7 linked regions of the Homo sapiens genome follow. The protein of the gene in region 7 purifies or fractionates together with the protein of the main gene of each other region. This does not show direct contact. Each region holds a gene or a part of one and is shown on either strand. Other genes may lie near its edges.

Region 1 (4,269 bases), on a different chromosome or scaffold from region 7:
TCGATTTCAGCTCACTGCAACCTCTGCCTCCCTGGCTCAAGCGATTCACATGCCTCAGCCACCTGAGTAGCTGAGATTGCAGGTGTGCACCACCACGCCCAACTGATTTTTGTATTTTTGGTAGAGACGTAGTTTCACCATGTTGGTCAGGCTGGTCTTGAGCTCCTGACTTCAAGTGATCCACCCGCCTCGGCCTCCCAAAGTGCTGGGATTACAAAGCGTGAGCCACCGCACCTGGCCAAAATAAAGTATTTCTGTATCTGTAAGCCTGAGAGTCCCACCCTTCTCAGTGAAGACAGCCAAGAAACTCTGGGGTGATTGAAGAGAGTCGTGGGTGGATGGTGTTGACCCATGCCTTGGGGAGGGACATTGAGGGTGGGAGCATCCTGAGTTTGTCCATGGTCTCTGAGGACCAGGACAGTGGCGAGCCCCTGAGCTGTGTCTGAGGGAAGACCAGAACTGGGCCCAGAATGTGTGATGGGGACACTTCCTACCTGCCCCTTAATGTGTCCTGTTGCCCACAGCACCTGCTGAAGTGCAGCTTTGACGTGGTCAAGCGCTGGGTGAATGAGGCTCAGGAGGCAGCATCCAGTGATAACATCATGGTCCAGGTGAGATGTGAGCAAGGGAGTGATATTTAAAACACTCAGGCAGGTGGTAAGGCACTGGCCAGTTGGCATGGACACTTGCCACCGAGATCCTTGTGACCCCTGGCCATAGCAGGCTTTAATCCTTTCGTCATTGGATCATGGGAGGAATTAGGAGGTCCTGGGTTAGAGAATCCAGGGTACCACTTGGGGCGCTTGGGTTACAGACTGCTTACCAGCTGGTGCTGAAATATTCAAGTATTTTGATAACCAGCTGAGTATTGTTTTGGAGCATATGATGTGGCAAACTTGGCCAAGGCAGGCAGAGGGCCGCCTAAATTTAGGCCTTTGCCAGCCTGGCTTTGTTATGATGTGTGGAATTATCTTGATGAGGCTTTCATCCACTTTACTCTTCCTCAGTGACCTAGGACAGCCGTTCCTTTTATCTCTCTGGCTCTTGGTTTCCTTGTCTGTAAAATACGAATGAAGGTTACTGCCTCACAAAGCAGCAAGGACGAGCTGAGATCATGCATGTAACATGTGACCCATCTGGGTCATGAGTGCCTATCGGCGCTCCCTGTGTGTTTATGTATTCCCTTTATCTCTCATCTGTCTTCTCATCCTTTGCACGATTCTTGTCTTCAGGGCCAGCTGTGGCCCCTCAAAACACTTATGAGGGCCAGATAAGCTTCCCACATAGAAGGCTTCCACAGCTGCCATATCTTTGCCCCCAAATGTCGCTCCTTTAGGAAACAAAAGAGAGTATCGAGGACAGGAAATAACTATGAGACCTCACATCTTTAGAAAGGGAGTCTCTGGGCTTCTGGCCCTCCAGGCCTAGCTTTGTCAGTACCAGCCAGGAGTCTTTGGGCAAGTCAGCAAAGATTAAACTGTCTACCTTCAGGGTTGTTGTGGGTAATGCAAGATTTCATGGCTAAGGTGTCCCACACAGTGACTTACAAAACATGACAATGCTCAGGGTCTGGCTCCCACCTTCTCTCTCTCATTGTCTGATTGAAAGCACCAGGTCTCCCACATTGCTTTCATCTTTGTGCTGTTTGTTGTCCCTTTCCATATCTGTATTTATGCTACCTGTTAGGGCTCTTGCCGAAGCAGGGGTGGGAACAAGAACCACAGATATACTTCTGTGGTTTGTGAAGCATTGTGTGGAGGGCTGTGTACACAGAGTACCTGGGGCAGTTGTCACAGCCACTCTGTGTGGTAGCTGCTACTGTGCCCATCTTAGAAATGAGAAGGCTGAAGGACCCACCCAGGGCCACACAGCCAGTATACCCAAAAGTCATACATTTGTACTCTGTTGCTGTCTCCTGTCCTATAGTACCACGCACTAGGGCTCCTGTACCATGTGCGTAAGAATGACCGCCTAGCCGTCAATAAGATGATCAGCAAGGTCACACGGCATGGCCTTAAGTCTCCCTTTGCCTACTGCATGATGATCCGGGTGGCCAGCAAGCAGCTGGAAGAGGAGGATGGCAGGTAACGGCTCTCATCTCTCACCAGCTAGATGATGCCTCACTCATCCTACCATGCTGGGCCACCCCCAACGTTTTCTTGCCACCCTATGTTCTTTTGTAGCCGTGACAGCCCACTGTTTGACTTCATCGAGAGCTGCTTGCGCAACAAGCACGAGATGGTGGTGTATGAAGCCGCCTCGGCCATCGTCAATCTGCCAGGCTGCAGTGCCAAAGAGCTGGCCCCGGCTGTGTCAGGTCACTGGGCATTCCTTCACCCAGCCTCACATGTTTATGCTTGCTGGGAACTAGGCCTGGGTTCCCGGGCTAGGAGAAAGAAAGAAAATGCTCTTAACAAGTGTTAAGGAGTCTGTACCTAGGAAGCACCTGCCCCAGACACTATGCTGAGTCCCCACTTGTATCACGTTTTGGTGGTGGGCTGCTGTTAGTTCCATCTGACTGCTGAAGAGGCTGAGGTAAGGCTCGGGTCCACTCTGGAGCCTGTCAGGTTGGCTGGCCACAGGAGGAGGCCTGGTGGAGGAACCCAGGATCTGTGAAACTGGTGCATGTGAAGTGGGGCTGCACTTTTCCAGGTGAAGGAGAGAACAGTATAGAGGGTCGTTCTGAGCCTCCAGCTCCAGCACTGGAGCAGGGCAGCCTGGGTTAGAGCCCTGGCTCTGCCCCTTACCAACTGGGCAAGCCTGGCAAGGCCGCCCATCCTCTCCATGCCTTCCTTTTCTTTTCTCAGATGTGGATGATAGATCATGCCTATTACATAGGGTTATATAGCCAGAAAATGTGTGATCTAGACAAATTGCTTAGAAGGCAACATGTTTGTTGTTTGCCGTTTGCTGTTTTTTGTTTTTGCTTTTTGAGACGGAGTCTCACTATGTCGCCCAGGCTGGAGTGCAGTGGTGCGATCTCAGCTCACTGCAACCTCTGCCTCCCAGGTTCAAGCGATTCTCCTGCCTGAGCCTCCCGAGTAGCTGGGACTACAGGCGCCCACCACCACGCCTGGCTAATTTTTGTATTTTTAGTTGAGATGGGGTTTCACCATATTGGCCAGGCTGTTCTCGAACTCCTGACCTCATGATCCGCCCGCCTCGGCCTCCCAAAGTGCTGGGATTACAGGCGTGAGCCACTGCGCCCAGCCGTTGTTTGCTGTTATTAAGGGGAATCCAGCAGCCTTGAGTCCTGGAGTCTTTGGTGTCTCCTCTGTGCAGGGCCCTGCTCTGGGTGTGGGAATACCCTGTCAGGGAGGAGAAAGCCTATGAAGAGGTGCAAAGTGGTTGGTACTGGAAAGTGGATATGTTGAGAGGCTAGAAAAGGAGAGGTGCTTAGGGTGAGAAACCTGGATTCAAAGTGGAAGAGAAGAGGGGAGTGTTTTAGAACAGGCCCATGGAAAGCAAAGATGTTGTGGCAGGAGAGTTAGATTTGCAGGTTTTGAGAAATGATTGGGCCTCTTGTTTTTCTATTATTCTCTACTATAACAGTGTAAACTTGGTCAGGCAAACAGATGGAGTTCATGTTTGGAGAGAGAAGTCTCCTTTCCTCCTTAGAAATGAAGAAAGAATGAACTGCTGGGCACGGTGGCTCACGCCTGTAATCCCAGCGCTTTGGGAGGCCGAGGCAGGGGGATCACCAGGTCAGGAGTCCGAGGCCAGCCTGACCAACATGGTGAAACCCCATCTCTACTAAAAATACAAAAATTAGCCGGGCGTGGTGGTGCGCATCTGTAATCGCAGCTACTCATGAGGCTGAGGCAGGAGAATCACTTGAACCTGGGAGGTGGAGGTTGCAGTGAGCCGAGATCGCGCCACTGCCCTCCAGCCTGGGCGACAGAGGGAGACTCTATCTCAAAAAAAAAAAAAAAAAAAAGAAATGGAAAAAGAACTAATGAATTCAGTCACTGATTTGGGTATTCATTCATTCTTATTATATCCCCCATATTTCCAGAATAATGAAAGATGTAAATAAAGTAGGGTCTTCAAAATAAGCATTAAGAAAAATTTTTTTTGAGTATTAGAGAATAAAAGCCAAGTTATGAAGAAAGGAACATAGATATTCCAGAAAACAGTAGTCATCTTCGCTCCTATGATTGAGTGCCAAATTTAGCTCTGAGCTTCCGGGCAGCCAGGGCAAGGGAGGGATATGGTACCCGAATGGCTCTCATCTAGTTAAAGGAAATAAACCATTTGTTTAAGAGAGGA
Region 2 (4,269 bases), about 23 Mb from region 7:
TTGCTTTCTGCAGTTTCAGTTACCTGCAGTGAGCAGTGAACCATGGTCTGAAAATATTAAATGGAAAATCCCAGAAATAAACAATCCATTAATTTTAAATTGTGCACCATTCTGAGTAGCATAATGAAATCTTGCGCTGTCCCGCCCAGGACATGAATCATCTTTTTGTCTAGCATATCTACAGTGTGTACGCTACCCTCTGTTAGTCGCTTAATAGCTGTCTAGGTTATCAGATTGACTGTCACAGCATTGTAGTGCTTGTGTTCAAGTTACCCTTATTTTACTTAATAATGGCTCCAAAGTACAGGAGTAATGATGCTGGCAATTTGGATATGCCAAAGAGAACCCATGAAGTGATTCCTTTAAGTAAAAAAAGTGACCTTGGTGTTTCTTTGCTACAGTTCAGTGCTATCCACACTTTTATTTATCCACTGGGTGTCTTGGAACATATCCCCCACAGATAAGGGGAGACTGCTGTACTGCTGGACATATATCATCTCAGTCTTCACACCAACCTGGGAGGTAGATGTTTTGTCCCCATTTTGTAGAAGAGGAACCTGAGGCCCGGTGACATTTGAGGAGCATTGCCTGTGGTCACATAGCCAATAAATTCTGAATTCTAAATAACTTGCTTTTTCTCACCCCCAGCATCTGAAATTTTAGCAGCTGGTAGAACAGTAAATAATGTAACTATTAATTCTGGGGGCCTATTTAGTGGAACACTTTTCCTGGGCCAGTCTTCCTCCCGCTCCTTTGTAATTTTAAACCACAGAAGTAAAATAACAAACGCCAGGTCTTGGAATTGAGAAGCAATCTTGTGATGGTATACTTCACGCTCAGCAAACTCATCGTTAAGGCACTGAGTTCTCGGACCTCTAACTCCCAGAAGACTTCCCATGAAGTCTCCTTTGGCCTAATACTCTCCTCAGCAGCCATTCTCTCTCTTCTAGCCATAAATAGTAAACTAAAATATTAATGAATGTGATTTGACAAATATTGCTAAGTCAGACAGCAGACCACTTAAGATCGATCGTAGCAACTTTTCCCACAAGGATCTGTGCTCAGGATACTTTATGCCTAGAGAAATTTGAAATTAGAGACTCAAAGTGTGTATGACTTGGAGCCCAAAGGTTATTTATTTATAGTTGGTTTTTCTCAGGTCTTTTGACAAAGTAGGAGAGTGAGGAACTCAGCCCTTCTTTGGCTGAATTAAAACCTAAAGGTTAAAAAAAAACTTACTAAGTGATGTAATAATGGGCTTTTATAAACTCCCTGACTCTTCAGCACAGTCAGCCTTCCCCAGGAAAGTATGCTTCCATGCTTCCTCCCATTGGTCATCCTCTTAATATTTCATTCAGTTGGTCCATGATTAACATTTCCATATTTTTGTTCTTTGCTCTTGTTTTCTAGAGGTGAGGAATGGTATTGGACTCGTTGCCTTTGTTTCCTGGCTACAGTTTCAAAATGAAGGCTCAGAAGCAATTTAAATTTTCATCTAGTTTTTTCCTTCTATTCTGAACTCTCTGCTTCTCCGTAAACCCACTTGATACTTCAATTCGTAGAGATACCCAGTGCGCTTTTCCTAAGTCACATATAGGGCTTTGAAGAAGCAAGGTGAAGCTTTGTATGATTCGTATAGGTTGATTTTTCAGCAGGGCTAGCATGCTTCATAGAAGCCAGTTTTTTTGAAAGGTATTGTCTGGCTTCTATATCAGCTTTTTAACACTCATAAACCATGTTATATATTCCATTATTTCCCAGCATCCCTGGAGAGCAACTTAGTCTTCGTTTCTTTCGCAGGTAATGGAGCAGAGATCGTGGAAAGATACGTACTTGATTAAGAGGTCTTGAGCAAGTTAGACAAAAATAAATGTGAAAACATGCGCATCTTGTTTGCTAGCCCCTAAAACAAAGTGGAATCATTGAGTTTACAGGTAGCTAGCTGGTAAGGCAATAGTCTTCATTTGCTTCCTACTTTGGACTTCAGGTCTGTTCTTGTGTTATATGTAGTAGTTCCATGAGGTAAATAGGTTCATTTTTATTCCCCCATTTTATTGATGATAGGGGAGAATGCAAAGGTGTAAGGGTATTTGTCCCAAAACATGAGCGTGATGAGAAAGCTAAAGTTGTAAAGCAGATGTCCTGACTATTCTTAGTGATTTCATAGTGTTATTTTGTGTTACACTGTCTATTTTAAGTTCCGAGCTGGAATTTACAAAGCAAGACAAAACTAGGGTAGAACTAAAGAGGGTTTCTTGAAGGTGAGTGGTAAGTACTTTGGTGATGTAAAGGAAGAAAGAAAGATGAGTAGGAAGGCTTACAGACGGGTTTTGAAGTGGAATAGAACTTGCCGTTTTGTTTATGGCCCGAAATCATCCTTTCTCTTTAAGCATATTAAAACCATTCTACATTATACTTAGCCATTTTCCTGCTGAACGTTTTACTCCTAATACCACTGTCCTGTGGGGAAGGCATTGACCAAAAGATGGCATTTTGTGGTATATAGCATGTTGTTAGGAAATTCAGAATTGAAAGTGAGCACCAACCAAAGCAGTAGATTCAACAGCAGGTGAAAAACAAAAGCTATAGCTGGCCTTCCTTTTTTATCTGACCTTCCTTTTTTATCCTCTACTTAAAGCAAGTCCAAAGGTTCAGGTCCATGAGAAAATGAATTGTGTACTCTGATTGGCAGTAACCTAAAATTTATACAGAATGGTCTGATCTTAAGTGAAGCTCAGGTGCCTTTCCAGTTCCCTTTGAAGGTAAGCAGCAATACAGTCATCTTAACTGAGGACCTTTTTTGTTGTTTACAGAAACAAACCGGAAGCAGTAGAAGTAACATTTGCAGGTAAGCATCTTTATCTCAGCCCTCTGAAGAGAAGGTACAATATGAAAAATAGGAAATAGGCTGGGTGCAGTGGCACATGCCTGTAATCCCAGCACTTTGGGAGTCCGAGGCAGGTGGATCACCTGATGTCAAGAGTTAAAGAACAGCCTGGCAAACATGGTGAAACCCCCTCTACTAAAAATACAAAAATTAGCCGGGCATGGTGGTGGGCACCTGTAATCCCAGCTACTCGGAAGGCTGAGGCAGGAGAATCACTTGAACTGGGAGGCAGGAGTTGCTGTGAGCTGAGATCACACCACTGCACTCCAGCCTGGGCGATACAGTGAGACTGTCTCAAAAAAAAAAAGAGAGAGACAAGAAAAGAAAATTGTACCTAAAATAAGCTTTGACATGGATTGGGTGCGGTAGCTCATGCATGTAATCCCAGCACTTTGGGAGGCCACGGCAGGCGGATCACGACGTCAGGAGATCGAGACTATCCTGGCTAACATGATGAAACCCTGTCTGTACTAAAAATACAAAAAATTAGCTGGGCATGGTGGCGGGCACCTGTAGTCCCAGCTACTCCGGAGGCCGAGGCAGGAGAATGGCATGAACCCAGGAGGCGGAGCTTGCAGTGAGCAGACATCGCGCCACTGCACTCCAGCCTGGGCGACAGTGAGACTCCATCTCAAAAAAAAAAAAAAAAAAAAAAAGCTTTGACATTTTGGATACTGTCCCTCATCAGGTCTTTTTGAGCTCTTTATAATAGATGACCATTTCATGTATTTAATCCACTGATGACTGACAATATAAAGTTACCTGCTGATAAATTAGAAGTTTGGATTTAATTTTGTGGTAAAACTGAGGTTTTTTTGTTGTGTTTTTTTTTTAATTTGGAAATATTACATTATCTTCAAGTAGCTGTCAGTCTTAGTTTGCCTAGCACTAGAGTAGTAGGGAAACATGAACAGCTAGAGATGTGTTCATCAAGTCAGAGAGAGATGTTGCTGCTTTCTGTTCCCTATAAAGAATTAGGTGTTGGTACTATTTACTTGTTAGGTGAATGAACTCAGAGGAATACAACCACCCTTTCTACAACAAGAGTCCTCGACAAGATGATCTTGGAAGACTTTTGCAGCTCTGAAGTGCTGTTACCTGGAGGCCAGGCACCATCCCTTTACCCTCCTACTAACTGGCATTGCCAGATATCCCTTCGTGATTCCCATGACAGCTCCATAAAGTGATGGCACTCAGCACCTAATTCTAGTTTCAGGAACCTATTCCTAGTTTCAGGAATTACACAGGCTGAGTCAGTCCTGTGTACTGCAGAAAGATAGAACCGAAAAAGAGGGGAGTCCTATAGATTAGAAGCAACTCAAAAGATAACCAAATGCAATGTGTGGATATTGTTTGCATCTTAATTCAAATAAGACAACAAT
Region 3 (4,269 bases), on a different chromosome or scaffold from region 7:
TCCTGCCTCAGCCTCCCGAGTAGTTAGGATTACAGGCGCACACCACCACACCCAGCTAACTTTTTGTATTTTTAGTAGAGACAGGGTTTCACTATGTTGGCCAGGCTGGTCTCGAACCTCTGACCTCGTGATCTGCCCACCTCGGCCTCCCAAAGTGCTGGGATTACAGGCTTAAGCCACCACGCCTGGCCTTGTCTTTTTAATAGAGTTTCACCATGTTGGCTAGGCTGGTCTAGAACGGCTGGTCCAGAACTCCTGACCTCAGGTGATTCGCCCACCTCTTCCCCAAAGTGCTGGGATTATAGGCGTGAGCCACCACCCTGGGCCTTTTTGTTTGTTTGTTTTGTTTTGTTTTTTGAGATGGAGTCTCGCTCTGTTGCCCAGGCTGGAGTGCAGTGACACAATCTCAGCTCACCACAACCTCTGCCTCCTGGGTTCAAGCGATTCTCCTGCCTCAGCCTCCCCGGTAGCTGGGACTACAGGTGCGCACCACCACGCCTGGCTAATTTTTGGTTTTTGCTTTTTTGCTTTTGTTTTGTTTTTTTTTGGTTTTTTTTTTGAGATGGAGTCTCGCTCTGTTGCCCAGGCTGGAGTGCAGTGGTGCGATCTCAGCTGATTGCAAGCTCCGCCTCCCTGGTTCAAGCAATTCTCCTGCCTCAGCCTCCCGAGTAGTTGGGACTACAGGCACCCGCCACCATGCCTGGCTAATTTTTTGTATTTTTAGTAGAGTCGGGGTTTCACCGTGTTAGCCAGGATTGTCTCGATCTCCTGACCTCGTGATCCACCCGCCTCAGCCTCCAAAAGTGCTGGGATTACAGGCGTGAGCCACCGCGCCTGGCCTTGTGTTTTTAATAGAGACGGGGTTTCACTGTGTTGGCCAGGCTGATCTTGAACTCCTGACCTTGTGATCTGCCTGCCTCGGCCTCACAAAGTGCTGGGGATTATAGGAGTGAGCCATGGTGCCCAGCCTTCTTGAGCTTTTAAGGAGTTGTTTTTACATATACCTTAAGAGGATGATCTTCTGCACAGAACATTTCTTCTATAATAATTTCCATTAACTCTAGATGAATAGTGTAATCTCTTGAGTTGAAAGAGTTTAACTAGCTTCTAGGCCTCTAATTGACTTAAGGTCACTCAGAACAAGGAGATTGATTGCTCTGATGCAACCAGCTGTTTAATTGTGAAGTAGCCTTAAGCTGTTGAATTTAGTCAAATTTGTGAAGTAGCTGACAGATCAAGTTTTGCTAGTAGGCCAGGCGTGGGGACTCATGCTTGTAATCCCAGCACTTTGGGAGGCCAAGGCAGGCAGATCACTTGAGGTCAGGAGTTCAAGACCAGTCTGGCCAACATGGCGAAACCCCATCTCTACAAAATAATACAAAAATTAGCTGAGCGTCCTGGTGCACACCTGTAATCCCAACTACTCAGGAGGCCGAGGTGGGAGAATCGCTTGAACCTAGGAGGCAGAGGTTGCAGTGAGCCAAGATAGCACCACTACACTCCAGCCTGGGTGACAGAGCGAGACTTTGTCTCAAAATAAAATAAACCAAAAATATATGCTTTTTATTTACCAACTTTTTTTTTTTTTTTCCGAGACAGAGTCTCTGTCGCTCAGGCTGCAGTGCAGTGGCACGACCTCGGCTCACTGCAACCTCCGCCTCCCAGGTTCAAGCAATTTTCCTGCCTTGGCCTCCCGAGTAGCTGGGACCACAGGTGCAAGCCACCACGCCCATCTAATTTTTGTATTTTTAGTAGAGATGGGGTTTTGCCTTGTTGGCCAGGATGGTCTTGATCTGTTGACCTCTTGATCCGCGCTCCTCAGCCTCCCAAAGTTCTGGGATTACAGGTGTGAGCCACCGTGCTTGGCCTGTTTATCAACTTTTTAAAAAGTGACATGGGCTGGGTGCAGTGGCTCACGCCTGTAATCTCAGCACTTTGGGAGGCCGAGGAAGGTGGATAACCTGAGGTCAGGAGTTTGAGACCGGCCTGGCCAATATGGTGAAACCCCATCTCTACTAAAGATACAAAAAATTAGGCATGGTGGCGCACGCCTGTAATCCCAGCTACTCAGAAGGCCAAGGCACAAGAATCGCTTGAACCCCGGAGGCGGAGGTTGCAGTGAGCTGAGATCGCACCATTGCACTCCAGCCTGGGCGACAGGGTGAGACTCCGTCTCAAAAAATAAAAGTGGCATGAGTTAATAATGTAAGCTAGGTAACGCTTCTTGGCTACATGGGTGACCTTGTGCAAGTTAACTTAGCTAAGCCCCAATTTCCTCATTTATAAAAAGAGGTATATGTTACCTTACAGGATTATTGTAAGAAAAGAAAAAGTAATACTGCAAATAGATAGCACAGTACCTGTTGCATAGTAAGTGCTTAAAGAATGGAAGCCTCGGCCGGGTGCGGTGGCTCACTCCTGTAATCCCAGAACTTTGAGGGGCCAAGGTGGGCAAATCACCTGAGGTCGGGAGTTCAAGACTAACCTGACCAACATGGTGAAACCCCCCTCTACTAAAAATACAAAATTAAGCCAGGCATGGTGGTGCATCCTGTAATCTCAGCTACTCAGGAGGCTGAGGCAGGAGAATGGCGTGAACCCGGGAGGCGGAGCTTGCAGTGAGCCGAGATCGCGCCACTGTACTCCAGCCTCGGCGACAGAGCGAGAATCCATCTCAAAAAAAAAAAAAAAAAAGAATGGAAGTCTTTGTTATTAAATAACAATTGCATATCACTGTTTGATCCTTGGCACATACAGTGAATTTTCTTTGAAAGATGGAACATAGAATTCATTATTAAAACCTAGTGTCTTTTTTTTTTATTTTTTGAGACGGAGTCTCACTCTGTCGCCCAGGCTGGAGTACAGTGGCACGATCTTGGCTCACTGCAAGCTCCACCTGCCAGATTCACGCCATTCTCCTGCCTCAGCCTCCCGAGTAGCTGGGACTACAGGCGCCCACCACCACGCCTGGCTAATTTTTTGTATTTTTAGTAGAGACGGGGTTTCACCGTGTTAGCCAGGATGGTCTCGATCTCCTGACCTCATGATCTGCCTGCCTCGGCCTCCGAAAGTGCTGGGATTACAGGCATGAGCCACTGTGCCCGACCCCTTTTTTTTTTTTTAGACAGAGTCTCGCTCTGTGGTCCAGGCTGGAGTGCAGTGGCACTATCTCGGCTCACTGCAACCTCCACCTCCCGGGTTCAAGCAATTCTCCTGCCTCAGCCTCCCGAGTAGCTGGGATTATAGGCGCCGGCCCACACCACGCCTGGCTGATTTTTTGTGTTTTTAGAAGAGACCAGGTTTCACCATGTTGGCCAGGCTGGTCTTGAACTCCTGACCTCAAATGATCTGCCAGCCTCAGCCTCCCAAAGTGCTGGCATTATAGGCATGAGCTGCCGTGTCTGGCTGTAAAACCTGCTGTCTTAACACATTGAACGTCAAGTCATGGTGTAGTGAAAAAGATCATGATTAAACATATCAGAGGGCCAGGCATGGTGGCTCACACCTATAATCCCAGCACTTTGGGAGGCCAAGGCAGGCAGATCACCTGAGGTCGGGAGTTTCTAGACTAGCCTAACCAACATGGAGAAACCCCGTCTCTACTAAAAATACAAAATTAGCCGGGTATGGTGGCACATGCCTGTAATCCCAGCTACTCAGGAGGCTGAGGCAGGAGAATCACTTGAACTTGGGAGGCGGAGGTTGCAGTGAGCTAAGATTGCGCCATTGCACTCCAGCCTGGGCAACAAGAGTGAAACTCTGTCTCAGAAAACCATATCAGAGTTCAAACTTGACTTTAGCATTTAACCTAATACTATGAGCCTTAGTTTACTCATCTTTAAAATGGCAGTCATTATATACTTTGTAGTAGTAAGCATTGGGAATAATGTTTTAGTGTACATTAGATAGTATTACAAATCACTTAGTGCCTGGGTCATAATAGTTATTCAGTGAAATGGTTATGATTGTTATTCTCTACTTTCAAACATACTCAATATATAACAACCCATCATATAACTAACCATCAACCCAAATAGCCCCAATTCATGGAGGACAGACGATATCCCTGCCTAATTCTTCTTTGCTGATAATTCCTTTTTTTTTCTCCATCTTGCTCCTCTTCTGTCAGTTGATTTATGAAGACTCTATGGATCTAATCGCAAAGCTACCTTGTGTTGCAGCAAAGATCTACCGAAATCTCTACAGAGAAGGCAGCGGTATTGGGGCCATTGACTCTAACCTGGACTGGTCTCACAATTTCACCAACAT
Region 4 (4,269 bases), on a different chromosome or scaffold from region 7:
TGAGGCAGAGAATTGCTTGAACCCAGGAGGCAGAGGTTGCAGTGAGCCAAGATCATGCCACTGCACTCCAGCCTGGGTGACAGAGTGAGACTCCATCTCAAAGAAAAAAAAAAAAGTTGATAATGATATGAACAATAAGGTCCAGCCTGAGGTGGTCTCAGATGGAGATGAGGAACTTATTGGAAACTGCAGCAAAGGTGACTCTTGTGTTTTAGCAAAGAGACTGAAAACATTTGCCCCTGCCTTAGAGATTTGTGGAACTTTGAACTTGAGAGAGAGGATTTAGGGTATCTGGTGGAGGAAATTTCTAAGTAGCAAACCATTCAAAAGGTGACAGGGCCATGTGCAGTGGCTCACGCCTATAATCCTAGCACTTTGGGAGGCCGAGGCAGGTGAACCACTTGAGGTCAGGAGTTTGAGACCAGCCTGGCCAACATGGCAAAACCCTATCTCTACTAAAAATACAATAAAAATTAGCCAGACATGGTGGTGGGCCCCTGTAATCCCAGCTACTTGGGAGGCTGAGGCAGGAGAATCGCTTGAACCCGGGAGGCAGAAGTTGCAGTGAGCTGAGATTGCGCCATTGCACTCCAGCCTGAGCAACAAGAGCAAGACCTTGTCTCAAAAAAAAAAAAAAGAAGTGACTTGGGTACTGTTAAAAGCATTCCATTTTAAAAGGAAAACAGAGCATAAAAGTTTGGAAAATTTGTAGCCTGATGACACAGTAGAAAAGAAAAACCCGGCTGGGCACGGTGGCTCACGCTTGTAATCCCAGCACTTTGGGAGGCCGAGCTGGGTGGATCACTTGAGGTCAGAAGTTCGAGACCAGCCTGGGCAACATGGTGAAACCCCATCTCTACTAAAAATACAGAAATTAGCCGGGCCTGGTGGCAGGTGCCTGTAATCCCAGCTACCCACTGTAATCTCCAAGCCTGAGGCAGGAGAATTGCCTGAACCTGGGAGGCAGAGGTTGCAGTGAACTGAGATCATGCCACTGCACTCCAGCCTGGGCGACAAGACCGAGACTCTGTCTCAAAAAATAAAAATAAAAAATAAAAAAAGGAAAGAAAAACCCATTTTTTGCGGAGAAATTCAAGTTGGTTGCAGAAATTTGCATAAGTAGCAAGGAGCCTAATGTTAATCCCCGTGGGGGATTAACACCATGGGGAAAGCGTCTCCAGGCCATGTCAGAGACCTCACGGCAGCCCCTTCCCTCACAGGCCCAGAGGCCCAGGAGGAAAAAGTGGTTTTCTGGGCCAGGCCCAGGGTCCCTGTGCTATATGCAGCCTAGGGACTTGGTGCCCTGTGTCCCAGCCAGTCCAGGCATGGCTGAAAGGGGCCAATCTAGAGCTTGGCCTGTGGCTCAGAGGGTGGAAGCCCCAAGCTTTGGCAGCTTCCAAGTGGTGTTAAGCCTGTGGGTGCACAGAAGTCAAGAATTGAGGTTTGGGAACCTCCGCCTGGATTTCAGAAGATGTACGGAAACACCTGGATGCCCAGGCAAAAGTTTGCTGCTGGCGCGCTCATGGAGAACCCCTGCTAGGGCAGTGTGGAAGGGAAATGTGGGGTCAGAGCCCCCACACAGTCCCTACTGAGGCACTGCCTAGTAGAGCTGTGAGAAGAGGGCCACCGTCCCTTCAGACCCTAGAATGGTAGATCCACGAACGGCTTGCACCATGCACCTGAAAAAGCTGCAGACACTCAATGCCAGCCCATGAAAGCAGCCAGGAGGGAGGGAGACTGTACCCTGCAAAGCCACAGGGGTGGAGCTGCCCAAGACCATGGGAAGCCACCTTTTGCATCAGCTTGACCTGGATGTGAGACCTGGAGTCAAAGGAGATAATTTTGGAGCTTTAAAATTTCACTGCCCTACTGGATTTTGGTCTTGCATGGGCCCTGTAACGCCTTTGTTTTGGCCAATTTCTCCCATTTGGAATGGCTATATTTACCCCCACTGTATCTACGAAGTAACTAGCTTGCTTTTGATTTTACAGGCTCATAGGCGGAAGGGGCTTGCCTTGTCTCAGATGAGATTTTGGACTATGGACTTTTGGGTTAATGCTGAAATGAGTTAAGACTTTGGGCGACTGTTGGGAAGGCATGATTGGTTTTGAAATGTGAGGACATGAGATTCGGAGGGGCCAGGGGCGGAATGATATGGTTTGGGATTTAAATCTCAACTTGAATTGTATTTCCCAGAATTGCCACATGTTGTGGGAGGGACCCAGAGGGAGGTAATTGCATCATGGGGGCCAGTCTTTCCCGTGCTATTCTCATGATAGTGAATAAGTCTCACGACATCTGATGGGTTTATAAGGGGTTTCTGCTTTTGCTTCCTCCTCATTTTTCTCTTGCCGCCGCCACATAAGAAGTGCCTTTCACCTCTCGCCATGATTCTGAGGCCTCCCCAGCTATGTGGGACTGTAAGTCCAATTAAACCTCTTTTTGTTCCCAGTTTCAGGTGTGTCTTTATTGGCAGCGTGAAAATGGACTAATGCAGATGGGAAGTTGCACTTAACAGCACGGACAGTATGATCCCGTTTTGTTTACAAATAAAATGTTTATTTATCCACAATCTTCACTCAGTTTCGGACTGAGAGGCGAAATTATAGGCAATTTTTCCATTTTCTTTTTGATACTCCTCTGTATATTCTGAATCTTTGATACCAGGCATGCATTACTCTGCAATCAGAAAGCAAAAGAGGTTTCTATTTTGAAGAGAAGAAAAGCATTTAATTTAAGGACCAGATCTTTTAGAGACCTGACTGAGGCTTCATTGTTACTGTTTTTATCTAAAAGGAGATGTCAGCCAAGTGTCCCTGATCCCAGCAGGGAGACTTTTACCCCATGCACACAGAGCCTTTATCCTTACCTCTACAGGAAGGTAAATACTACAGTGAGGAGGCCGAGGTGGATCTGCGGGACCCTGGCAGAGACTATGAGTTATACAAGTACACCTGCCAGGAGCTACAGAGGCTGATGGCTGAGATCCAAGACCTGAAGAGCAGGGGTGGCAAGGATGTGGTAAGGAGTGGGACCAGGTGGCCGTGAACCTGGTGGGTTTACATAGATGAGGCTGTTTTTGCACCTACCAGGGCCCTTCCTGATCTTGATCTTCTGTCCTAGCCATGATCAGGTGATTGGAGCCTGAGGGCTCCCAAAACCTGTGAATTTATTGGAACTTCTTATCACCATTCAGTCACCAATTACAGGAATGAAAGTACAGGATAATTAATTTTTTCCCTACTAATTTGATCATTCATCCAATTAATATTTATTAAGTGCCAGGCATTTTGCTAGGTGTTGAGAAATGATGGTACTTATACATTTGCTTGATACAAAGATGGATGTGTACAAGTAAATTGTAGATACCAAAAATGAAATTATCATTAATAGTAAATGAATAAATGAGGTTTTAGGGGCAGAGAAATTAAACAATGTGACTAAAAACTCGATAGATAAGTTTTTTAAAATCCATTTTTTCCCCCAGGAATCTCACGTATTTGTGCTTATGCTGACAAGTTTTGTTAGAATTATTGCATTCAATCTATTCTAGCCAAGCTTTATGGCTATAATTCTGTTATTTTCCATTTAAGTTATCCTGTAATGTTATTTATAGAGGTCAAATTTTATGACAAGATGTTACTATTGCTGGGATCTCTGTGTAGGATCTGTAGAGATAGATTGTGCCTTTGCTGCCCTTATTCCATCTTCAATTCCTGTTACTCTAGTCCAAGCAGAAATTACTTTTTTTTGCCCGAGATTCTTAATCATTTTCCTTATACAATCATCCTCTTATTTTCTTCATGACCCTTCTCATGGTTCTGAGCTCCCTCCGGTGCCGTTTTTGGCCCCAGATGAGGATGGGTCAGTGGTGAAGGACTGAAGGAAGCTGAGCTAGCCCTGTCGTCAGTGGGCTTTACTGTTTTCTTTGCCCACAGGCAATAGAAATAGAAGAACGGAGGATCCAGAGCTGTGTGCATTTCATGACTCTAAAGAAGCTTAACCGATTAGCCCACATCAGGTTGAAGAAAGGAAGAGATCAGACCCACGAGGTAGTAGTTAAAAGGTTTAATTTTAACCTTCCTCCTTCCTCCTCCCCATCCCCTTCTTTTTTTTTTTTTTTTTTTTTTTTTGAGACAGAGTCTCGTTCTGTCCCCCAGGCTAGAGTGCAGTGGCACGATCTCAGCTCACCACATCCTCTGCCTCCCAGCTTCAAGCGATTCTCCTGCCTCAGCCTCCTAAGTAGCTGGGATTACAGGCACCTCCCAC
Region 5 (4,269 bases), on a different chromosome or scaffold from region 7:
GAGGGAGGGGTGGGGCTGTAGAGGTGGCTCGTACCATCTCGGTGGTGGGCCTTCTGTGTCCGGGGCTTTCAGAATGACAGATCCCAGTGTGCCTGGCCTTCTCGGTCCCAGAAACACTTGACCTGCCTCTTGCTTGATGTCGTAAGGGGATAAGGTGCTGTCAGAATAGCCCTTTATGTTGGCTCTAATGCTTGGAAGAGACCCCTGTATTGAACTGAATTCTACTTCCCTGTGACCTCTGCCCGTGGGTACCTCACCAAGCATAGCTGTTTCCTTTTCTAGAAGATAGCCCTTTGATCATTGGTACAGAGTCACCTTGTCACAACCAGACCTCAGTTTCTCCTGGTCATTCCTCTTCAACTGTGCTTCTGTTGGTGTCTCAGCATCGTGAGGACAGAAGCCCAAAACCTGACTCCCTTCCCCAGACCTGTACATTCGGGCAGCGCGTACATTCTGTCTCCCTCTCTCTCTGCGCCCAGAGCCTCAGCTCAGCTGCCTCCTTGGAGGCAGCTACCTACCTCTCCAGTCCTGTCCTGGGGCCATCGTGGGTGTGGGACAGGACCTGTGACTCTTTCCCTTTCTTGTCTAGTCCCCCGCCACACACTCACTCCCATGGTTTGTAGCCCAAGAGTCTCTGGTAGGGCTGCGATAAGGTTGTGTGGTCCTGGATGATTTTACTTAGAACCTGGGTTTCCCCTGGAGAAAGGCTGGCCAGGGTGGCATCTGAATGGGACTGCAGCCTGCTGACAGGAGGCCTGGCCACCTGTCCTGGGGAGCAGCACTGGGCTTTTTTTTTTTTTTAAGATAGGGTCTCACTCTGTGGCCCAGGCTGGGGTGCAGTGGCACTATCACGGCTCACTGCAGCCTTGAACTCCTGGGCTTAAGCGATCCTCCCACCTCAGCCTTCTGAGTAGCTGGGACCACAGGTGTGTGACTCCACGGGGCCTGAGCACCAGGCTGGATGCAGCTTTCTCTTGTAGCTTGACAGGAGCCAGGGAGGGGGATCCCACCTGGAGCTGGTATACCCAACACAGCTGTGGAAAAGTTGACCACAGGCGGCCCCTTCCGCCTGATTGGATTATTGTATGATCATTCATTAAACTGTTTCTCTGTTGTTTTTTTGAAACAGAGTCTCACTCTGTCGCCCAGGCTGGAGTGCAGGGGCGAGATACCGCTCACTGCAACCTCCACCTCCCGAGTTCAAGCAGTTCTCCTGCCTCTGCCTCAGTAGCTGGGACTACAGGCAGGCGCCGCCACACCTGGCTAATTTTTGTATTTTTAGTAGAGACAAGGTTTCACCATGTTGGCCAGGCTTGTCTCGGACTCCTGGCCTCAAGTGATCCGCCCACCTCGGTCTCCCAAAGTGCTAGGATTACAGATATGAGCCACTGTGTCCAGCCTGCTTTTTTTTTTTTTTTTTTGAGATGGAGTCTCATTCCATCACCCAGGCTGGAGTGCAGTGGCACAATCTTGGCTCACTGCAACCTCCGGCTCCTGGGTTCAAGTGATTCTCCTGCCTCAGCCTCCTGAGTAGCTGGCATTACAGGCACCCACCACCACGCCCAGCTAATTTTTGTATTTTTAGTAGAGACGGGGGTTTCACTATGTTGGTCAGGCTGGTCTGGAACTCCTGACCTCAAGTGATCCACCCACCTTGGCCTCCCAAAGTGCTGAGATTACAGGCAGGAGCCACTGCGCCCGGCCTTGTTTTGCTTTCACAAGGCTTTATCTTTTGAGCAGTTTTAGGTTTACAGAAAAATCCAACAGAATGTCCAAAGAGTTGCCATGCCCCTCCTCTCCCATCTGGCACACAGTTTTCTATTCTTCACGTCCTGCATTAGTGTGGAGCATCTGTCACAATTGACAGGATGTTGATACATTATTATTAATAAATGCATGGTTTACCTTCCGGTTCCCTCTTGGTGGTGTACATTCTCTGTGATTACAGTATCATAAGAGTAGTTTCACTGCCCTAACATTTTTCTGTGTTCCCCCCTACTCATCTCACCCTCTTCCTACCAAACCCCTGGCAACCACTGATCTTTTACTGTCCCCTTAGTTTTGCCTTTTCCAGAACGGTCTATAGTTGGAATCAGACAGTATGTAGCCTTTTCAGATTGGCTTCTTTCACTTAGTGCAATATACATTTAAGGTTCCTCTGTGTCTTTTCACAGCTTGAGAGCATATTTCTTGCTTGTTTTTTAAATTATTTTATTTTATTTTATTTGAGATGGAGTCTCGCTCTGTCACCCAGACTGGAGTGCTGTGGCATAATCTTGGCTCACTGCAGCCTCTTCCTCCTGGGTTCAAGCAATTCTTGTGCCTCAGCCTTCTGAGGAGCTGGGACTAAAGGCACACACCACCATGCGCAGCTAACTTTTGCATTTTTAGTAGAGATGAGGTTTCACCATTTTGGCCAGGCTGGTCTCGAACTCCTGACCTCAGGTGATCTGCCCGCCTCAGCCTCCCAAAGTACTGGGATTACAGGCGTGAACCACCGCGCCCAGCCTGTTTTTTAAATAGGGTGCTGTGTTGCCCAGGTTGGTCTTAAAACTCATGACCTCAAGCAATCCTCCCTCCTCAGCCTCCTAAAGTGGCTGAGAGCTCATTTTTTTTTCAGCACTGAATAATATTCTGTTGTCTGGATATACCACACTTTTATCACCTGCTGTTTCTTTGTTTTTTATGATTATTATAAAAGAGATAGCTAATCATCATTAAATGTATATCAACCGAAAAGAGAACATTTAAAAAAATCCCTGAGTCCCTCTGTGGGGCATTTCATTCTATGTTCTACTATGTTCTTTAAATTTTTTTTCTTGTACATTCTTTCTAGTCCAAATCATATTCTTCTGGAAACAGAAAAGGCTTTCTGTCCGGCTTGCTAGATAATGTCAAACAAGAATTAGCCAAAAACAAAGAAATGAAAGAAAGTATAAAAAAATTCCGTGACGAGGCCAGAAGGCTAGAAGAATCAGACGTGCTCCAGGAGGCCAGAAGGAAATACGTGAGTTTCTTTGCTGCTTTTTTTTCCCTCACCCAGGCTGGAGAGTAGTGGTGCGATCTCGGCTCACTGCAACCTCCACCTCCCAGGTTCAAGTGATTCCCCTGCCTCAGCCTCCTGAGTAGCTGGGCTTACAGGCGCGCACCACCACGCCCAGCTAATTTTTGTATTTTTAGTAGTGAAGAGGTTTCACCATGTTGGCCAGGCTGGTCTCGAACTCCTGACCTCAAGTGATCCGCCCGCCTCAGCCTTCCAAAGTGCTGGGATTACAGGCGTGAGCCACCGCGTTGGGCCCCTTTGCTTCTTACCTTTCTTGGTTGACATGTTTGTTTCCAGGGCCAGGGTTTCTCCAGGCCAGGGACAGCCAGAGGAGCTCAGGGCTGGACGGTTGGGGGCAGGGTGGCTCGTGAGGAAGTGAGGTCACTGCTCTGATGCACTAATGAGAGGGAGCCAGGGGACAGGTGCGGGTCTCCAGGCCTCTGGGTTCTGCCATGAGACCATGCAGCGTTCTGTGCAGCTTGAAGCGTGGTCCCCAGACCAGCAGCAGTGGCTCCTCCTGGGAGTGGATGAGCAGTGCAGAGGCTCACACCCTCCCAAACTGCCAGGCCAGCGCCCGCATCTTCACAGGCCCCCAGGCAACGCATGCACACCAGCTATGGGATGCAGCGCTCCTGAGAGCTCCCAGCTGTAGCCCTCTGAGTGGAGCCTGGTGGAAACTGGGTGATGGTGCTGGTATTTTATTTTATTTTATTTTATTTTATGAGATGGAGTCTTGCTCTGTCATCCAGGCTGGAGTGCAGTGGCGTGACCTTGGCTCACTGCAACCTCCAGCTCCTGATTCTCCTGCCTCAGCCTCCCGGATAGCTGGGATTACAGGCGCCCGCCACCACACCCAGCTGATTTGTTGTTGTTGTTGTTGTTGTTTTTTGAAGCAGAGTCTTACTCCATTGCCCAGGCTGGAGTGCAGTGGTACGATTTTGGCTCAACACAACCTCTGCCTCCTAGGCTCAAGCGATTCTCCTGCCTCAGCCTCCCGAGTAGCTGGGATTACAGACACACACCACTACTGCCCAGCTAATTTTTGTATTTTTAGTAAAGACAGGGTTTCACCATGTTGGCCAGGCTGGCCTTGAACTCCTGACCTCAAATGATCCACCTGCCTTGGCCTTCCAAAGTGCTGAGATTACAGGTGTGAGCCAGTGCGCCCAGCCCTATATATCTTTTTATAGAGACGGGGTTTCACCATGTTGGCCAGGCTGGTCTCA
Region 6 (4,269 bases), on a different chromosome or scaffold from region 7:
GAGGTTTTTGTTTTTTTGTTGTTTGTTTGTTTGCTTTTGAGACAGAGTCTCGCTCTGTTGCCCAGGCTGGAGTGCAATGGCATGTTTTCCGCTCACTGCAACCTCTGCCTCCCAGGTTCAAGTGATTCTTCTGCCTCAGGCTCCTGAGTAGCTGGGACAGGTGTGCCCCACCACGCCTGGCTAATTTTTGTATTTTTTAGTAGAGACGGGGTTTCTCCATGTTGGTCATGCTGGTCTTGAACTCCTGACCTCGTGATCTGCCCGCCTCGACCTCCCAAAGTGCTGGGATTAAAGGTGTGAGCCACCGCGCCTGGCCTTTTTTTTTTTTTTTTTTCTTGTACTGTACTCTAGGGCTGTTTATATTTTTTTAATCTATAATATTAAGTTTCCTAGTCATTTACCTTTTTTTGGTAAACACTTGAGTTATACAATGATGAAAAGTAAAGTTCCTTCCTACTGTTTCTCTCCAGTCCCCTGTTTCTCCACACGCAGCTACTGTTAATCAATTTCTTTTGTATTTTTCTGGGGACACTATTCCTATGTATTTATGCCTGACTCAAAAAAAAACAAATACTCCTCATACTTTGTTTATATACTTTGATTATTTTATATACACTCTGTTGGGAACCTCTGCTACTACCTTCCCCTTTTTTAAAAACAATGTATCTTGGAGGTTGTTTGGAATCAGTAGGAAGTACATTGCCTTGTTCATTTTAACACAGCATTGTATCCCATTGTGTGTATTGCATAATTGATTTAACAAGTTCCTGTGTGATGGATAATTATAGTTTGTTTTCACATTTTTGCTGTTGTAGTTTTGCAGTGTCATTCTACTTATCTTTGCATGTATATGTGAGTATATCTGTCCCATAAATTCTTAGAAGTGGAATTGCAGAGTTAACAAATAGATGTATCCACCAGAAACACTGCATCAGTAGGAAGTACTTTGCCTTGTTCATTGTAACACAGCATAGTAGCCCATCATACATTGTAGGGATGCCCCATGATCAATTTGACATGTTACTGTGTGGGCATTTAGTACATTGTTTGCATGCTTTTGCTGTTAAGTGCTGCAGTAAAAGTCATTCTTCCCTGGCTGCAAGGAAGTTTGATAAAACCTTTACCAATAAGAAAGACACGCCACAAACTTAGGAAAAGGATTCAAATTTTGGGCCACCAGAAATATACAGCTATGTACTGTAACCATTGTGGCAACAAATGTATTTAGGCCGTAGATCTATGATAAATGTGTAGGCATGTATCAATTTTTTTTTTTTTTTTGAGACTGAGTCTCACTCTGTGGCTGGGGCTGGAGTGCAGTGGCGCGATCTTGGCACACTGCAAGCTCTGCCTCCTGGGTTCACGCCATTCTGCTGCCTCAGCCTCCCGAGTAGCTGGGACTACAGGTGCCCGACACCACGCCCAGCTAATTTTGTTTTTGTATTTTTATTAGAGACAGGGTTTCACCATGTTAGCCAGTATGGTCTCGATCTCCTGACCTCGTGATTCACCCACCTTGGGCTCCCAAAGTGCTGGGATTACAGATGTGAGCCACCACGCCCAGCCAGGCATGTATCTATTTTTAACTGGAAAATTGAATAGCTTGTGAATTAGTAATGATTTGGGTCATTTAGTACCAACTGTCTCATAAAGGGAACAAAATTTTTTTAAAGTTATTCTACTTTGCGATGCCTTCCAGCAAGGTATGAGACTTTTCTCTTTTTGTAAATTTGTCTCTTCGTGTACGTTGTACCCTTATTGTATTACATTGTTCCCTTATCATATTACGTTCTTCTGTTTCTTCTTAATTTATTAAACCTCATATATTGAGGAAATTAGCTCTATGTCTGCCATATTATGTTTACAAATATGTTTCCAGATTGTCATATGTCACTTGTCTTATTTATTTACTTTTTGGCCTTCTGCGCATTACGTTTTTTTAAAATTCTAGGCTGGGTGCAGTGGCTCACTTCTGTAATCCCAACACTTTGGGAGGCGGAGGCGGGCTGACCACTTGAGGTCGGGAGTTTGAGACCAGCCTGGCCAACATGGTGAAACTCCGTCTCTACTAAAAATATAAAAAAATTAGCCAGATATGGTGGTGCACGCCTGTAATCCCAGCTATTTGGGAGGCTGAGGCAGGAAAATCGCTTGAACCCAGGAGGTGGAGGTTGCAGTGAGCTGAGATCATGCCTCTGCATTCCAGCCTGGGTGACAGAGCAAGACTCTGTCTCAAAAAAAAAAAAAAAAAGAAAAAAAACAACTTCCATGTTTTCTTATTTGTAGTTTCAATTTGTTATATTAAAATCTTTGACCCTGTGAAATTTTATTTGGTATAAGGAGTGAATAGGGAACTAAAATTTTTTTCAGATGTCTGAATAATTGTCTTAATAACATAATTGTCTTAATACCATATGTTGGTGTTTTATCTTATGTTGACTAATTGTCTTAATACCATATGTTGATAATCCGTGTTTTCTCTATTGGACTTTAACGCAACTTTAATTGTATACTTATTTTCCATATACATTCAAGTCTGTCTCTGGACCTCTTCTATTCTGTTTCTGTATTTGTACACCAATACTAGCTTGTTTTAAATACTATGGCCTTATATGTTATAAAATCCAGTAGAGTGGAGAGGCATACCAATATTTTAGGCAACTCAATGTTTTCTCCCTACAGTGATCTACAGAATCATTGCAATCCCAATTAGAATTCTAGCAGAATTTTTTTTGTAGAAATTTCTACTAAAGCTTTGGCTAACTTTCTTCAGACACTCTCATAATAAGCAGATACTACTCTTTGGCCTTCCAGAAAGTCAACAAGTGAAGTGCCTTGAGCATCCAAAAAACCTGTTGCTGTTGCCTTTGCTCTTGACTGGTCAACTTTTGCTTTGACTGGACCACTTCCACCTCTTGGTAGCCATTGGTTTAATTGTGCTTTGTCTTTATGATCAAACTGGTAAAACCATGTTTCATCTTCTGTTACAGTTCTTCAAAGAAATGCTTTAGGACCTTGATTCCACTTGTTTAAAATTTCTTTTGAAATCTCTGCTCTTGTCTGCAGCTGATTTGGGAGCAGTGGTTTTGGCACCCATCATATGGAAAATTTGCTCAACTAATTTTTCATTAAGAATTGGTGGGAAGAAGGCTGGGCGTGGTGGCTCATGCTTGTAATCCCAGCACTTTGGGATGCCGAGGTGGGTGGATCACCTGAGGTTAGGAGTTCGAAACCAGCCTGGCCAACATGGTGAAATCCCGTCTCTACTAAAAATACAAAATTAGCCGGGCGTGGTGGCGCATGCCTATAATCTCAGCTACCTGGGAGGCTGAGGCAGGAGAATCGCTTGAACCTGGGAGGCAGAGGTTGCAGTGAGCCGAGATCACGCCATTGCACTCCAGCCTGGGCAACAAGAGTGAAACTCGGTCTCAAAAACAAACAACAAAACAAAGAATTGGTAGGGAGGCCAGGAGCAGTGGCTCACCTATAATGCCAGTGCTTTGGGAAGCTGAGGTAGGAGGATCAGTTGAGGCCAGGAATTTTGAGACCAGCTTGGGCAACATAGCAAGACTCCATCTATACAAAAAATAGGGCCAGGAGCAGTGGCTCATGCCTATAATCCCAGTACTTTGGGAGGCTGAGGTGGGTGGATCACCTGAGGTTAGGAGTTCGAAACCAGCCTGGCCAACATGGTGAAACCCCGTCTCTACTAAAAATACAAAATTAGCCGGACGTGGTGGCGCATGCCTGTAATCTCACCTACCTGGGAGGCTAAGGCAGGAGAATCACTTGAACCTGGGAGGCGGAGGTTGCAGTGAGCCGAAGCCGAGATCACACCACTGCACTCCAGCCTGGGTGACACAGTAAGACTCCAAAAAGAAAAAAAAAAATTAGCTGCACGTGGTAGCACATGTCTGTAGTCCCAGCTACTTGGGAGGCTGAGACAGGAGGATTGCTTTAGCCCAAGAGTGTGAGGTTACAGTGAGCTGTGATCATGCCTGTATACTCTAGCCTGGCTGACAGAACAAAACCCTATCTTGAAAAAAATATATATGTGGTGTAAGCCAAACCATATATATATATTTGGGATTACAAGCATGAGCTTGTAATTGGTTATATACACTCAGATGTCTGTGGTGTTGGCTATTGTTTCTGCTGTTAATCAACAGTCCTCTTCAATTAGGGCATGAACAAGATGAATTTTTTCCTTATAAATTGATGCGGGTGGTCTGCTGCTACAGACTTCCATCTTCAATATTATCTTGTTCC
Region 7 (4,269 bases):
CCCAAAGTGCCGGGATCACAGGCATGAGCCACCACGCCCGGCCTCACCTCCCTCTTCCTTATTAAGGCTTAGGAGCTTGTTGTCTGTTCTGGACACTTAGCCATTGCTGGTGGCGTGTGTGACAGACATCTTTCCCCAGTCCTGGCTGGCTGTCCTGGTCATGATGGTGTCCTGGTTGGTTTTAACCTGCTGTGGACTGAGTTAGTCCTGCGTCCGACTCCCCTCCACCTTCCGTGCCTTTCTTCCCTCACCCACCTTCTCATTCCCACGTTGCCTACTCCTTGTCCAGAACACACAGGGAGCAGCCCCTACTTGCCACATCACCCCACCCCAGGGTGCCCCTCCCTGCCCCGCTCTCCCTGGCTTCCTTCCAGTCCTTCTCAGGTGTTGGCACATGGAGCCCACAGAGCTAACAGCCACCCCACTCCTGAGTTTGGATCTGCTTCAGTGTCTGGGAGGTGGAGGTGAAAGACACCTGCTTTTATTATGGACAGAGCTGATTGGGTGGCGTGGTCCCATGAGTTTTCAAGGTCATCATCCAGACTCGAGCAGGTTTGCCCTTTAGTTGAGGGCAGGGGGGACTACTGCAGGGGACGCCGGTGGCCCCAGCACGTTGCCCAAAGTGTGCCTGGTCTGCGGTCTGCAGGACAGTTCTCAGCTCTCACAGAACATCACGGCCAGCTGGGGGCCAGGGTCTGCCCTTGACTCTGTTCCACTTCGCCCAAGGTGGGGCCGGGACTTTGGCACTTAGGGAACCCCAGATGGCTGTGAGGGCTGAGGACCACTGGACTAAATGGGATGGTGCTGAAAAGCAGTTATGCACTCAGAGGAGGCACTTCTGCACTGGACTGAATCAGATCCCTGTCTCAACCCACCCCGGGCTCCAGGAGCACCTGTCACATGTTGGCACACATGTGCACATGTGAACATAGACAGTAGTGCTCACCTATATGTACACACACATACACACGGAAACATGTCCGTGCACAGCATGCATGTACACCTGGTGACCGATCAAAGGTGAGGCGACGTTCGATGTTGAAAACCAAAAGCTGGAGGCACTGCCCCTCAAGCCAGGAGGCAGGCGTGTGTCAGCATAGTCTGGCCAGCAGGGCAAGGCTCTCCCTAGCCTTAGGGGAGGCTGCAGGTGACGCCGGTCCCAACAGCATGCTGTCTGCAGCAAATCTGTTGCTGGGGCCGACTCCCAAACGGGGCTGTCGAGGCCCGGTTGGCTTTCAGAGGCGTATCCATGGGAGTAGGTGTCATGTATCAAATAGGAGATTCAAAGTCAGCTGTTACCACGGCTACAGAAATGCCAGTCTTTTCCTAAGAGTGCGAATGGACACACACATGTGCATACGTGCACACATGCACCCTCAGGCTCTCACGGAGCCCTGGGTGCCTACAGCAGGACGTCCAGGACGGGAACACCACAGTGCACTACGCCCTCCTCAGCGCCTCCTGGGCTGTGCTCTGCTACTACGCCGAAGACCTGCGCCTGAAGCTGCCCTTGCAGGTACGTGGGAGGCATGGGGACAGGGTGGGCCTGGAGGTCCCGGTCCCCACACACTGCGTTCAGCTGCCAGTGCCGACAGCCTCAGGAGGGCTCCCTGCTCAGAGGCCTCAGGGGCTCCTCCTACCCACCCCGACACCAGGCCCCAAGAAACCTCACTGGGCAAACAGGGCAGGTGGTGGCATCCCCCACAGTGGGCTCCCGGGAGGTGGGGTCGGGTGAACAGTGCGTGTGCACTGAGCTGGCCCCTCCAGGCCCAGACCCCCGCCAGGCCACCTGCTGAGGGCCCTGCCTATGAACATGGGGTGGAGAAGGCTGCCTCCAGGTGACCTCAGGAAGATGGGCCTGGACGTGGGTCCGCCTCCCACCGCACTGGCTGGCCTGACCCTCACTGCGTGCGGGTGGGAGACACGCTACTTACCAGTTCCCACCCCTTTTCCACTTGAGGGTCTCTGGGCTACAAATTGACAAGCTGAGCAGCCTCAGAGCCTGAGGCCCTGAGAGGGGAAGGGGCTCACCTGGGCCCTCACAGGGTCTACCACGCTCCTTCCCTCTGCTGGAGCCCCTTCGCCCATTGCCCAATTTGCAAACTTGCACAACCTCCACTCCCACCTGGGGCATTTGCCCTCCTCCCGGGAGTGGGAGGAGCCACTGACGTTTCCTTCCAGGAGTTACCCAACCAGGCCTCCAACTGGTCGGCCGGCCTGCTGGCATGGCTGGGCATCCCCAACGTCCTGCTGGAGGTTGTGCCAGACGTACCCCCCGAGTACTACTCCTGCCGGTTCAGAGTGAACAAGCTGCCACGGTAAGGCAGGGGCCCTGCCAGTCGGAGGAAAGAACAGGAGTGAGTGGGAGTCGGTGAATGAGTGAGCGGAACTTGGTGCTTCCCCAGGACTCTCCTCACCTGGAGTTTTCGGCAGGGAATCTGAGGCCAGGTGCGCACGCTTATCGCGTGTCTGCATTTCCAAATGCCGCTGCGTCAGCCGGGCTGGGGCGGTTGTGCTGCAGGACAGATAACCCCCCCAAGGCCCAGTGGCTGGACACGCGAGGTCTAGTTCCTGCTCAGGCACACGTGTGGTGGGGCGGCGCGGTACCTGCTCACCACGGTCTCTCAGGGCCCGGGCGATGGAGGCTCTGTCTCGTCACAGCGTCCCCAACTGTGGAGGTAGAATACAGGGACACGTTTGGCCCATGCTGGCTCCCTCCTGGAAACGACACGTGTGTCGTCCACACACATTACTACTGGACAAAGCCAGTTGCACTATGGCACCAGGCCTACAGACTAGGGGAGTCCAGAAGTGGCAGGGACCACTGTCGGGGAACCAGTGCTGAAGGCGGCCTTTCTGCCACACGGGATGCCTCCTTTTGGGGCTGGTGGGAAATTCAGCCTCACTCCGTGTTGCCCCACCTATGGCTTCCCAAGATTCTGGTTTCCCAGGGAGGGCCCCTACCCAGTCACTGTCCGCACTGCCCACGAGCACCCTCGGCCCCATGACGGAGCTTCAGGGCGGCACACGGGATGGGGCTCCCTGGCCAGCCTGGCCCTCTCTACACCGCCCTGCCCTGTGCCCAACCACAGTTTGCTTCCCCCCACCCTGTGTGTGGTGAGGGGTTCTGGGTATCTGGGGGCCTGCTGTGGCCTCCTGTTCCTGGGGATGTGAAAAGGCATAATCGGGAGCTGCTGACCTGCCGGGGAGCCAGCTGCTTCTCCTGGGGCGAGGGCTGTGTCCGCAGGCCTGTGCTTCTGCGTGCGCGCCAGCACCCGGGCCCCAAACCTTCTGCACCGTTCACATGCCCGCAGCTTCCTCCAAACCTTCTGCACCGTTCACATGCCCACAGCTTCCTCCAAACCTTCTGCACTGTTCACATGCCCACAGCTTCCTCGGGAGTGACAACCAGGACACCTTCTTCACAAGCACCAAGAGGCACCAAATTGTGAGTGGGGGTTCCCTGCCGCGGGCCCCAAACCCTGACCTGGCTCTGAGGATCCTGCCAGCCCCCAGCCTCCATGGATGCAGAAAGGCCTGCTTGAGACCAGAGGGCCGAGGCCTGGAGCCCGGAGGCTTTGGAAACTTTAGAGGCTGACCTCACCTCGCTACACAGGGCAGGCCATGACCTGGGATTGGGAAGGGGTGGGGAAGGGCCCAGTTCCCCTCCGGGACCCCAGGGCTCAAAATAGATATTGGATCTATGGACATGTGGGACAGCCGAGACTAGCCCCAGGCAGGGTGGGTCCTGCCGGCTGGGAGCAGACCTGCCCTGCAGCGTCGGAGGAAGGGTGGCCCCAGGCGGGGCAGGCCCAAGGCACCCGGCAGGAGGCCTGTTCCTGAGGCCTACCCAAGAGAGGCCCTGCTGACCACCACAGGGCACACAGTCACGTGGCTGCCCAGGTAGGGGGCAGGGCACACCCTGGACACAGCTGCCAGGCTGCAGTGTTCACCGTCACCCAGGGTGCAGGTCCAGAGTGGGCTGCGCACGGCCAGGCAGGGGCCCAGCTTCAGGTGCAGACTCGACTCCCACATGCCGTGTGGCTCTGGTCAAGGACTCTGAGCCTGCACAGTGGGAGAATGAGCACTACCCTGGCACAGGGGCGTCCTGCATGTGCATGTGCGGTGGTGACACAAAGTCCCAAGCCTTTCCATCAGATCGCTATTGTCACCAGAAGGCTGAGGGAGGCCGTCCATGGCCTTGGCCTAAAGACAGGCTAGCTAGGACTTCCCTGTTCTGCTATCACGTGACAAGTGACCTGCGCCATC

The links.
Region 1: the proteins of ANO7 (region 7) and COPG1 purify together in Homo sapiens (affinity purification with mass spectrometry, with the first as the bait; one large-scale study listed by BioGRID). This does not show direct contact.
Region 2: the proteins of ANO7 (region 7) and ARPC2 purify together in Homo sapiens (affinity purification with mass spectrometry, with the first as the bait; one large-scale study listed by BioGRID). This does not show direct contact.
Region 3: the proteins of ANO7 (region 7) and CS purify together in Homo sapiens (affinity purification with mass spectrometry, with the first as the bait; one large-scale study listed by BioGRID). This does not show direct contact.
Region 4: the proteins of ANO7 (region 7) and THOC5 purify together in Homo sapiens (affinity purification with mass spectrometry, with the first as the bait; one large-scale study listed by BioGRID). This does not show direct contact.
Region 5: the proteins of ANO7 (region 7) and TIMM44 purify together in Homo sapiens (affinity purification with mass spectrometry, with the first as the bait; one large-scale study listed by BioGRID). This does not show direct contact.
Region 6: the proteins of ANO7 (region 7) and DDX52 purify together in Homo sapiens (affinity purification with mass spectrometry, with the first as the bait; one large-scale study listed by BioGRID). This does not show direct contact.

The regions. Positions count from the first base shown.
Region 1 is NC_000003.12:129,255,544-129,259,812, forward strand, and holds part of COPG1 (coatomer subunit gamma-1), read left to right. Parts: intron 1-524; coding exon 525-611; intron 612-1,926; coding exon 1,927-2,084; intron 2,085-2,183; coding exon 2,184-2,317; intron 2,318-4,269. UniProt on the Homo sapiens protein: The coatomer is a cytosolic protein complex that binds to dilysine motifs and reversibly associates with Golgi non-clathrin-coated vesicles, which further mediate biosynthetic protein transport from the ER, via the Golgi up to the trans Golgi network.
Region 2 is NC_000002.12:218,223,107-218,227,375, forward strand, and holds part of ARPC2 (actin-related protein 2/3 complex subunit 2), read left to right. Parts: intron 1-2,813; coding exon 2,814-2,848; intron 2,849-4,269. UniProt on the Homo sapiens protein: Actin-binding component of the Arp2/3 complex, a multiprotein complex that mediates actin polymerization upon stimulation by nucleation-promoting factor (NPF).
Region 3 is NC_000012.12:56,276,056-56,280,324, reverse strand, and holds part of CS (citrate synthase, mitochondrial precursor), read left to right. Parts: intron 1-4,129; coding exon 4,130-4,269. UniProt on the Homo sapiens protein: Key enzyme of the Krebs tricarboxylic acid cycle which catalyzes the synthesis of citrate from acetyl coenzyme A and oxaloacetate.
Region 4 is NC_000022.11:29,543,212-29,547,480, reverse strand, and holds part of THOC5 (THO complex subunit 5), read left to right. Parts: intron 1-2,877; coding exon 2,878-3,021; intron 3,022-3,938; coding exon 3,939-4,052; intron 4,053-4,269. UniProt on the Homo sapiens protein: Component of the THO subcomplex of the TREX complex which is thought to couple mRNA transcription, processing and nuclear export, and which specifically associates with spliced mRNA and not with unspliced pre-mRNA.
Region 5 is NC_000019.10:7,936,765-7,941,033, reverse strand, and holds part of TIMM44 (mitochondrial import inner membrane translocase subunit TIM44), read left to right. Parts: intron 1-2,836; coding exon 2,837-3,007; intron 3,008-4,269. UniProt on the Homo sapiens protein: Essential component of the PAM complex, a complex required for the translocation of transit peptide-containing proteins from the inner membrane into the mitochondrial matrix in an ATP-dependent manner.
Region 6 is NC_000017.11:37,636,753-37,641,021, reverse strand, and holds part of DDX52 (probable ATP-dependent RNA helicase DDX52), read left to right. Parts: intron 1-1,453; exon of another isoform or gene 1,454-1,568; intron 1,569-4,269.
Region 7 is NC_000002.12:241,197,908-241,202,176, forward strand, and holds part of ANO7 (anoctamin-7), read left to right. Parts: intron 1-1,380; coding exon of another isoform or gene 1,381-1,408; coding exon 1,409-1,516; intron 1,517-2,181; coding exon 2,182-2,318; intron 2,319-3,352; coding exon of another isoform or gene 3,353-3,390; coding exon 3,391-3,448; intron 3,449-4,269. UniProt on the Homo sapiens protein: Has calcium-dependent phospholipid scramblase activity; scrambles phosphatidylserine, phosphatidylcholine and galactosylceramide. Does not exhibit calcium-activated chloride channel (CaCC) activity. May play a role in cell-cell interactions.